Linked DNA regions of Homo sapiens. The protein of the gene in region 2 interacts with the protein of the main gene of each other region in a pairwise test. Each region holds a gene or a part of one and is shown on either strand. Other genes may lie near its edges.

Region 1 (3,655 bases), on a different chromosome or scaffold from region 2:
TAATCAACAGGTGAATGGATACACAGATTGTGGTAAATCCATACAATGGAATACAAATCTATAATATAAGAGTGAAATGCAGGCCGGGCGCGGTGGCTCATGCCTGTAATCCCAGCACTTTGGGAGGCCGAGTCGAGTGGATCGCTTGAGGTCAGGAGTTCGAGACCAGCCTGGCCAGCATGGTGAAACCCCATCTCTACTAAAAATACAAAAAAAATTAGCTGGGCATGATGGCGGGCGCCCGTAATCCCAGCCACTCGGGAAGCTGAGGCAGGAGAATTGCTTGAACCCAGGAGGTGGAGGTTGTGGTGAGCTGAGATCGTACCACTGCACTCCAGTCTAGGCAGCAAAGCCAGACTCTGTCTCAAAAAAAAAAAAAAAAAAAAAAGAGTGAAATACTGATACACATAACCAGTTCAATGAATCTTAAAATAATTATGCTTAGACAAAGAAGCCAGAGCCCCTTCTTCCCCAAAAGGTACATACTGTATAGTTCTATTTATATAAAATTATAGAAAATGGAAACTAATTTATAGTGACAGAAAGAAGTTCAGCAGTTGTCTGGGCATGGCAGGGAGGAACAATAGGAAGAATTACAAAGAGGCATGAAGAAAACTTTTGGGAATAACAATTAGGTTCATTATTTTTATTGCAGTGATGGTTTCACAGGCATATACATATGTCAAAGCTTATCAAATCATATACTTCAAACATGGGCCATTTATGATCATATCAACTACATCTCAATAAAGCTGACTTTAGATTTATTTTCTCCTCCTCCTCCTCCCTCTTCCTTTTTATTCATTAATTTTTTTAAAGATGGGATTTTACTATGTTGCCTAGGCTGGTGTCAAACTCCTACACTCAAGCCATCCTGCTGCCTTGGCCTCCCAAAGTGTCAGGAGTACAGGCATGTGCCACCAGGCCTGGCAATAAAGCTGATTTTAAAAAGCAGAATTAGAAAGAATAATGTATCTGTACATACTGACATTTTAAAAAGTCCATAACACATACTAAGTGGTTTTTTCTTTTTTTTCCTTTGAGATGGAGTCTCACTCTGTTGCACAGGCTGGAGTGCAGTGACATGCTATATCGGCTCACTGCAACCTCTGCCTCCTGGGTTCAAGCGATTCTCCTGCCTCAGCCTCCTGAGTAGCTAGGACTACAGGTGCGTGCCACCACACCCAGCTAATTTTTTATTTTTAGTAGAGACGGCGTTTCACCATGTTGGCCAGGCTGGTCTCGAACTCCTGATCTCAGGTGATCCTCCTGCCTCAGCCTCCCAAAGTGCTGGGATTACAGGCGTGAGCCACCACACCCAGCCGACACATACTAAGTTTTAAAAAGGTGTGGAATTATATATATATATGGAGAGAGCTAAATATCTCATGATTCCATTTATGTAAAATAAGTATATTTATATTGAATATATGTATGTGAATGTATACAAAAGGTCTAAGGAAATACATATTAATCTGTTTCCAGTTTGAGATTGGAGAAACAATATGGAGGGCTTTCATCTTATACATTCCTATGTTGTTTACACTTTGTATAACAATCATGCATACTTCTGAAATTTTAAAAATATAAGAAAGTTTAAAAAAAAAAAGTTAAAAAGCCACAGGGCAAAAGATAAAAAAGAAAAGCCAAACTGACATATTTTATAATTTAAAAAATAAAATGGAGTCTTGTGTTTGGAGACTAATTCCCAGTCGTGAAGCTAAAGTAAAGAGCATAAGCATCAAATTTGCTTGGACTTAGATTCAGATCTGCTCTCTCTGCTCTTGCCCAATGGAAAATCACCACTTCCATGAGCCACCGAGATGAGTGACAGCAACTGTCTATTCCTCAGGTATCCTGAGGCACACACCAAAAGCTTTAAAAGACCAGCAGTTTTCACTCCAATTTTCAATGGGGATGAGGAACAAACAAGGCTCCAGTAGAAAATCTGGTGGCCGGGCACGGTGGCTCACACCTGTAATCCCAGCACTTTGGGAGGCCAAGGTGGGAAGATCATGAGGTCAGGAGATCAAGACCATCCTGGCTAACAGGGTGAAACCCTGTCTGTACTAAAAATACAAAAAATTAGCCGGGCATGGTGGCACGCACCTGTAGTCCCAGCTTCTCGGGAGGCTGAGGCAGGAGAATCGTTTGAACCCGGGAGGTGGAGGTTGCAGTGAGCCAAGATCACGCCACTGCACTCCAGCCTAGGCGACATAGCAAGACTCCGTCTCAAAAAAAAAAAAAAAAAAATTCTGGCAAGGTTTCTGAGCCCACACTCCTCAGGATATTTAGTACCTTGGATAATTTTCTGCTGCTGTTGCCGGATTTCATCAAAACCCAAGCCTCTGGTCTCCTCTGGCTCCTCAAAGAGCCAAGGGTTGGGTGCTCCTCGCTTAGCCTCTTCACTCATCAGGCTGGACCTAAAGAACAATATTAAATGCATGATATATCTCAAAACATGCAGCTCAAATGCAAATTACTCCCACAAGTGCAGAGGTGGCCAGCCTTGAATGCTTTGAAAATTCAATTCAAACACAATTTATTGCATCATTAGTTTATGCCAGGAACTGTATTCAGTGCTGGACGAGATACAAGGATGAATAAGGCACAAGCTTGGTCCTCAGAATTACAGCCTGTTATAGAGATGATGGGAGAACATAATATTTGTACTAATCCTCCAAGAGATGTTTGAGTTAATAATCCTAAAAGAAGTTGGTAATAAATGAGGTTCTTAAATTTCAAAAACAGAAGGCCGAACAGCGGCCTTTTTATTAGGACAAAGTTTGTCTCAGAGGCTACGTGACCCCAAAGGTACAAATATTATTTCTCAAGCAGACACAATGTTGCGACTACAGATTACAATGTTGTTGTTGTTTTAAAAAAAGACCATATAATTTCCCATTAAAGGGTATTTGGAGCCGGGCGCAGTGGCTCATGTGTGTAATCCCAGCCCTCTGGGAGGCTGAGGCGGGCAGATCACCTGAAGTCAGGAGTTCCAGACCAGCCCGTCCAACATGATGAAACCCTGTCTCTAATAAACACAAAAAAAATTAGCCGGGCTTGGCGGCAGACATCTGTAATCCCAGCTACTTGGGAGGCTGAGGCAGGAAAATCGCTTGAACCTGAGAGGCGGAGGTTGCAGTGAGCCAAGATGGCGCCACTGCACTGCAGCCTGGGTAGCGGAGCAAGACTCTGTCTCAAAAAAAAAAAAAAAAAAAGGAGTATTTGGTTGCTCAGAGACAGAAACACATGCAGGGTTTCAATACCAATTTTGTGACTATAATGTAGCATTCATAACAGAATAAACACATTCTGATTTGTCAATCTTAACCTTACTCCCTCTAATAATCCATGTGCCCTTTCTGCACGAGACCAGTTGGTCTCGCTGTCTAAGGAACAGGAAACACATGATTTCCACCTCAGTCCCCATGTTTTCAGGATTTTTCTCCTCTCAAGTAGCTCCTCTCCTCTCCCCACCTGTCTGCATTCTGTCCAAGCTGAGAAGATCATCTTGTCCAGGACACGACCTTCTGACCAATTCAACAAAGAGATGAACATTAGACTCATCTTTAGAGCTCTCAACAGATTCATGAAAAATCATAGAATAAATGATGGGTGGGACATCAGCAAGATGACTGATTAGAGTCAGCTG
Region 2 (3,454 bases):
TCACTTGGTATAAAATTAAAAAATACAGATACTTGGAACCTTCCCCAGAACACTAATCCTGGCTGTCTAGGGATGGTGCTTCCTAGGTCATGCTGATACATACCAAAGTTTGGGAACCCCTGCCCTGTGCACACCACTCCTCACTCCTAGGCCACAGAAAGTTCTAGGGTGTCTGCAGGGACAGATTCGTAGTTTATAGTTTATCCTGAAAACCTGGGGGCCTCCGTGGGTCTACTTCAGGCTGATTCTGTCATCTGGATGTGACAGTGCCAGGCTCTGGGAGGGACAACATTGGTTGAGTGCTTGCCATGTGTAAGGCACCATAGTAGAAAAGATAATGTGGTCCCTACCCACAGGAAAGTCACCGTCTAATAGAGAACTGTCTAATAGAGAATCTGCACAGTGAGCAGGTGAACACTAAACATCACAACTTGAGGGGTGAAAGACCACCTGTCTATGCCCTTCTCTTTAAAGATCAGAGAACTGAGGCCTGGTTGGAGAAGTGAGCCAGCCAAGATCCTCCTGCAGATGGGCCTTGGAAGGCAGATGCTATCTTTTGGCTGCACTACCCTGTGAAATAAAAGAAGGTTCTCTTATAATAGGTGTAAGAAAGTCCACTTTTTGGAGTTGGGCAACATTTTCAAAATTCTTCTGTCGATTTGCACTTTAAGAGTCCACACCTGGGCACGGTGGCTCACATCTGTAATCCCAGCACGTTGGGAGACAGAGGTGGGAGGGTCATTTGAGGCCAGGAGTTAGAGGACAGCCTGGGCAACATAGCAAGATCCCATCTCTATTTTTGTTTAAATAATAACAAAGGAAAATCAAAGAATCCTCATCTTTCACCAAGAGGGTTAAGGCAATTCTCACAAAGGAGATGGATGAGAACTAGAAGCAGCAGGCAGGTGCATGTGATTTGTAGGGGATGCTTGTAGTGAGGCCTGTCTGTTCTGCCTGCTCCTCTGGCACAAATTACCCCCAGCAGCTCCTTATATTAAGTCAAGCCATATGATCTAATCCAAACCACAGAATGGCCAGGTGAGGGAGGGGGAGGCTGCGTGGCCCATGGTCACTGTAAGGTGGGCCCCTGCTGCAGTTTGACACCCACAGGACCCTGAGCTCCCTGGGGCAGCACCAGTAGGCTTGCCCCCTGCCTCCTGCCAGCCTCACCTGCCACCTTCTGCCCCTCTCGGGATGCCTTTGCAGACAGAGCTCTTCGCTGCCTGTGGTGGCCACTCTTTGCTTTTGGTTCTCTTGCCCCTTGGCCTCCCTTTTTGTCCCCGGGCAGCCTTGTGTGACCTGCCCTTTTCCCTCCCTTCCTTTCCAGGACAAGCACGCCGAGGAGGTGCGGAAAAACAAGGAGCTGAAGGAAGAGGCCTCCAGGTAAAGCCTAGAGGCCAAAGAACTTTCCAGGTCAGCCGGACAGCTCCAGCAGCTCCACGTTCCAGGCAGCCTCGCCCGCCGGCTGCGCTCCCAGCACTGGGGTTTGGGGGGAGGGGGGTGGCCAAGGGGCGTTTCCTCTGCTTTTGGTGTTTGTACATGTTAAGAATTGACCAGTGAAGCCATCCTATTTGTTTCCGGGGAACAATGACGGGGTGGGAGAGGGGAGAGGAGAGAGTTTGGGAAAGGGAGATGGAGAAGAACTCAAGGACATTGCAACCCTGCCCGGCGCAGATCTGATTTTCACATCTCTACCTGGACATTGAGCCTCCAGGCACCATGTTGAGGAGAGATGAAAACCAGGGCGGTAGAACTTCAGGGTGAAGGACAGAGTCCTGGGTGGGGCAGCGGCTGCAGGGCGCACCAGAGAACCCAGCCAGAGGGGTTGTGAGTACCAGTGGTGTTGCTTCCACCCTGCAGCAGGTGGGATGAGGTCTGTGTGTGTGTGTGAACCATCATTTTTTGATCATCATGACCAATGAAACATTGACTCCAAGTGTCCAGTTCTTTATTTCCCAAATGTGTCCTTTGGGTAATTGTTAAAAAGTTCTCGAAACCTGGCTTTCATCCATCTGATGGCAGATGCCCCTTTGCTTCCTTAATTCTGCCATTCAAGCATCTGGAGCCTGGGTGAGGTGGGTTGAATCAGGCCAGCCTTTGGCATAATTGAAAGGTTTTCTCTTCTGTTTTTTAAAATCCCCTCTGTGGGCTAATCTTTATTGGATAGCATGCACTAAATTGATGAGAAAAGAAACTCAATCTTCCTTTCAATGAACTGACATCCTAATATGGTCCCCAAGATGCACTGTAAGAAGGAATTTGTCTTAGTCACAACCGTTCAGACTGCTGTAACAAAATACCTTAGACTAAGTAATTGATAACAGAAATTGATTGCTCACAGTTTTGGAGGCTGGGAAGTCCAATATCAAGGTGCCAGCAGATTCAGTGTCTGGTGAGGGCTTGCCATCTGCTTCAAAGATGATGCCTTTTTGCTGCATCCTCACATGGCAGAAGGGAAGGGCAAAAGGGCTTCCTTGAGCCTTTTCTTTAAGGCACTAATCCCATTCATGAAGGTGGAGTCCTCATGATCTCACCTCTTAAGGCCCTATCTCTTAATTCTGTAGTGTCGGGATTAGGATTCAACCTGTATATTGGGGGAGACAGCAACATTCACACCATAGCAGAAGTCCTCCATGCTTTGGGGGTTTGAGATTCTAGGTAGATTAGAAAATACGAGCAAGGAAATAAAGTGTTTGCTAGTAGAAGGCAAAGGAGGCATCCAGACCCAGCAGTCTTGGTCTCCAGGACACTGAACCATGGCTGGAAAAGAAGCTCTCCTCCTCCCTTCCCCTGCAAACATGAGTGCAGGGGCTGCCTGTGTTAACCGGGTCCCAGGACCTCTTCCCACTCTGCTCTGCACACTGTGTAGTTTTTTACAGCTTTGCAAATAAACCCTTTGGTATAGCCTTTTTTTCTTTCTTCTCACTAGTGGTACTGTAATTTGGCTTTATTTTAAAATAAGATAACAGGAGGATCAAAGATGATGATGATGATGATGATGATGATGATGATGATGATGGCAGCAGCTAACTTAGGCAGCACTTACTAGATGTCCTACACTTTTCTGTACTTTTACATCTATATTATCTCACTTATCTTCACACCACCTGTAGGAGGTAGGTACTCTTATCATCCCATTTTGTAGACAAAAGAATTGAGGTCTAGAAAGGGTAAGTAACTTGGCAAGGTCACACAGGGAGTAAATGGGAGAACAGGGACTTGAATTGGGCGGTTTGCTCCCAGAGTCCATATTCTTAGCCACTGGAGTGTGCTGCTTCTTGACACCTCCAAACTAGCATCTGAGTCCCAGAATAGGGTTTCTCAAGCTGTGAGTGGTGACTCACTGGATCTTGAGATCAACGTAGTGGATCCCACCCAACCTTTCTTTTCTTTTTTAAGTGGATTAGAATAGAAAAACAAAACATCAAAATGGGTGACAGGTGATAATGGAGGC
Region 3 (3,655 bases), on a different chromosome or scaffold from region 2:
AGACAAACGGATTAACAAAATGTGGCACACATACACAACAGAGTATTATTCAGCCATAAAAAAAGAATGAGATCCTATCATTTGCAACAGCACGGATGAACTGGAGGACATTTTATTAACTGAAATAAACTAGACACAGAAAAGAAAAGTTTACATATTCTCACTCATTTGTGGGAGCTAAAGTTTAAAACAACTGAACTCATGGAGATAAGAGAGTAGAATTTTGGTTACTGGAGGATGGGAAGGGTAGTGGGGGTGGGAGAAAGGGTGATGGTTAATGGGTACATAATATAGTTAGCTAAAATGAATAAGATTTAGTACTTGATACCACAATAGGGTGACTACAGTCAACAATAATTTATTGTACATTTAAAAATTAACAGAGCACAACTGACATGTTTATAACACAAAGAAATAATAAATGCTTGAGGTGATGAATACCCCATTTACCCTAATGTGATTATTACACATTGCATACCTGTATCAAAATATCTCATGTACCCCATAAATATATTACACACCGAATATGTACCCATGAAAATTAACTTTTTTTAATTTTAAATTTAAAAAAATGTTTTTCTAGCAAAGAGATCCTCTGAGGTTGCTATTTGAAAGTATTTTCCCGATTAGTCACACATCTGGTAGCTTACTTTATAAATCACTGAAAGGATTGCTTTGAACTTCTATATTCTCTCATGTACTTGATTTAAAATATTAGAATAAAGTAATTCATTTTCAAGAGTTTCTCAGTTTTTCCCAAGGATTTTTTTAAAATAAAATAACTGAGATCCAGAACTCACCAGAAGAAATCTTACCAGCACCTTTACAGTCAACAGAAAATGCTGATGTGACTCCATTGGCTGACCCCAGTTCGCACATGGAAATTTGATAAGGAGGCCTCAGCTTGATTTCCGTCTGCATGTCAGAAAGATTTATCTTTGTTGAAAGAGACCTGGGATTATTATATCGCTGCTTGGTCCTCTGAATGAAGTTATCTATGTAAAATAAAAAATAAATTTCCTTGCAGTCACTTGTCAATTAATCATTTCAGAATATGATGTTTATGGATAGTAAATATTACAGGTAGTTTATTATTCAAAATTGTTCAATTCGTCATGAAATAGTCCAATATTACTTGTGTTTAATGATTAATGTATCATGGAATCATCAGTTTTACCCTCTAGAAATCAGTAATTTTAAATAAACTAAGGATTTAACACTACCTAAGTGTATTACATCCACTTCAAGAAATTACAAAAACAAAAAACAGCTTTAACTTTAAACCAAAGTCTTGAATTTTTTTTTTTGAGACAGGGTCTTGCTCTGTCACCTAGACTGGGGTGCAGTGGTACAATCATAGCTCACTGTAACCTCAAACTCCTGTGCTCAAGTGATCCTTCTGCCTCAGTCTCCCAAGCAGCTGGGGCTACTGGTGTGAGCCACCATGCCCAGTTTATTTATTTATTTTTGTACAGACAGGGTCTATGTTGCCCAGGGTGGTCTCGAACTCCTGGCCTTAAGTGATCCTACTGCCTCGGCCTCCCAAAGTGCTGGGATAAAAGGCATGAGCCACACCACACCTGGCCCAAAGTCTTGATTTTTATAGAGATTCCTATCTCATGAAATATTAAATCTGTCAGATTTACCAGCTGCAATTACATAAGAACACACACTAGAAGTTGCATGTTTTTATAAATCTGTTTTTTATTGCTTACACCATTAGAATGTAGGTTTTAAAGAATAAATTGAATAAAACTAACATAAGACATTTCCTAAATATTTTCCAAGTGGAATTTTATTTTTACTATTTACAACATGGTGTTTTTTTTTTTTCTTCTACATCAGAAGTTGAGCAAACTACTGCCCACAGGCCAAATCTAGCCTGCTGACTATTCTGTAAAGTTTTATTAGAATATAACTGCACTCATTTACGTACTGCCTATGGCTGCTTTCGAGCTACAACGGCAGGGCTGAATAGTTGTGACAGGGACTATATGATCCTTAAAGTCTAAAATATGTACTATCTGGTCCTTTCCAGCAAATGTTTGCCATCCCCTATTCTACATGAAGCAGACTATAAAAGATTATTACAGAAACGCAAAAGTCTGAATCTCTGGCTTATAAATTTCTCATTGAGAAGTTATCCTCTGGCATTAATTCTTCGGACCAATACTCACAATCCCCTTCACAGCTCAAACACAATTTTTTTCTAATAAGCATCTAAGTAAAAAGTTACCATAATTTATAGATCATTTACCAAATTATTATATCAAAAGCAAGATAGCAGAAGTCCCCCCTCCACCCAATATTAGATTTAAAATTGCTTATGATTGGATGCAGACAGAATAAAAAGGAAAAAAAAATCAGGCCCTTACCAAATTCAATGAAACAGTATGGTCTGACAGCAGTATTTGTCTTCATCATGTTATAAGTAGTAATGAACTCCTTCTGAAGCTCATCCAGGAAAGAGAAGGCGAGAACATTTGGGTAATTTTCAGTGCACAACATCATGTAGCTCACTCCCAGAGAGCTAATAAAACTACAGTGTAAAAAACATTGGTTTTAAAATTTCAAATTAAATCAAGGTAATTCACTGCTTCACAAGACTGGTTCTATACACCATAAACTGCTACTACGGTGGCAATGAAGATCTTAACATTTATTATATATTCTAGGAAAAAATTTAAAGGAACCAAAATACAGCACTATTTTAAGTTGTGGTTTAAAAACAGAAGACAAAAAATAGAATGTACTACAGAGGGACACACAATACGGTTCTAACATTTCAGTTATCACTTGGGGTAAAAAGCAGGGGAATGGATATACAAATGTATTGTAAGTATTACAGATAGCTTAAAGTCTAACCCTTCAATATGTTTTCCACTTTTGAGTCCAGAACCCTTTCAAGATTCTGATGACAGGAACACTCTCCCTAGAAAGATGCCAGAACACAGAAGATTGCACACAATTTCAAGGTGATCACTGACCTCTTGAAGTTATCATTGACACACCCCAGAATCAAATCCTCTACTTTACACAGTAATTAATTATGAACCATGGGAGGGGGGAATTTATGAGTTTATATAAAAAACAAAAGGAGAAATGAGGGCTATGGCTTAAAGCAGAATGCTGAGTGTTGACTGGTAAACGTAGAGGAAGTGCTAGCAATGGAAAAATCAGCATTTTGCAACCAACATAGTAAAGATTGGATCAGGCAAGGACAATCATGGATGTTAAATCTAGGGGGAAATTTTTACGGGTTAGTATATTTGCATGGTTTTAAAATGTCTTTCCATGGATTGTTTCTTAGTTGCAAGGGGAAAATATTATACAGTAGAAACTAGGTAACTCCTTCACCAAGTACTCTCTAACATCATTCATGTTAGATGGACATTGTGTGTCTCCAGATGTTATATCCTGAGAAAGACACATCAGCTATATAATATTCTGAGAATGCATAATTTGAATTTAATCATTAAGAAAACACCAAAATGATCAACATTCTATTTTTGAAAAGGAAAAAGTGTATTCTTTAAAAGTGCCAGGGTTGTAAAAAAGAAATAAAGGATGTGGAAATGTTGCCAATCAAAAGAAGCTAAAGAGGCCGGGCATGGTGGGGGCCTGTAATCCCAGCACTTTGGGAGGCCGAGGTGGG

The links.
Region 1: the proteins of STMN4 (region 2) and STX8 interact in binary tests that used the Homo sapiens proteins (3 or more experiments, as listed by UniProt).
Region 3: the proteins of STMN4 (region 2) and SEC22A interact in binary tests that used the Homo sapiens proteins (3 or more experiments, as listed by UniProt).

The regions. Positions count from the first base shown.
Region 1 is NC_000017.11:9,502,740-9,506,394, forward strand, and holds part of STX8 (syntaxin-8), read right to left. Parts: intron 2,424-3,655; coding exon 2,299-2,423; intron 1-2,298. UniProt on the Homo sapiens protein: Vesicle trafficking protein that functions in the early secretory pathway, possibly by mediating retrograde transport from cis-Golgi membranes to the ER.
Region 2 is NC_000008.11:27,234,779-27,238,232, reverse strand, and holds the end of STMN4 (stathmin-4), read left to right. Parts: intron 1-1,327; coding exon 1,328-1,387; 3' UTR 1,388-2,925; downstream 2,926-3,454. UniProt on the Homo sapiens protein: Exhibits microtubule-destabilizing activity.
Region 3 is NC_000003.12:123,222,443-123,226,097, reverse strand, and holds part of SEC22A (vesicle-trafficking protein SEC22a), read right to left. Parts: intron 2,540-3,655; coding exon 2,376-2,539; intron 996-2,375; coding exon 801-995; intron 1-800. UniProt on the Homo sapiens protein: May be involved in vesicle transport between the ER and the Golgi complex.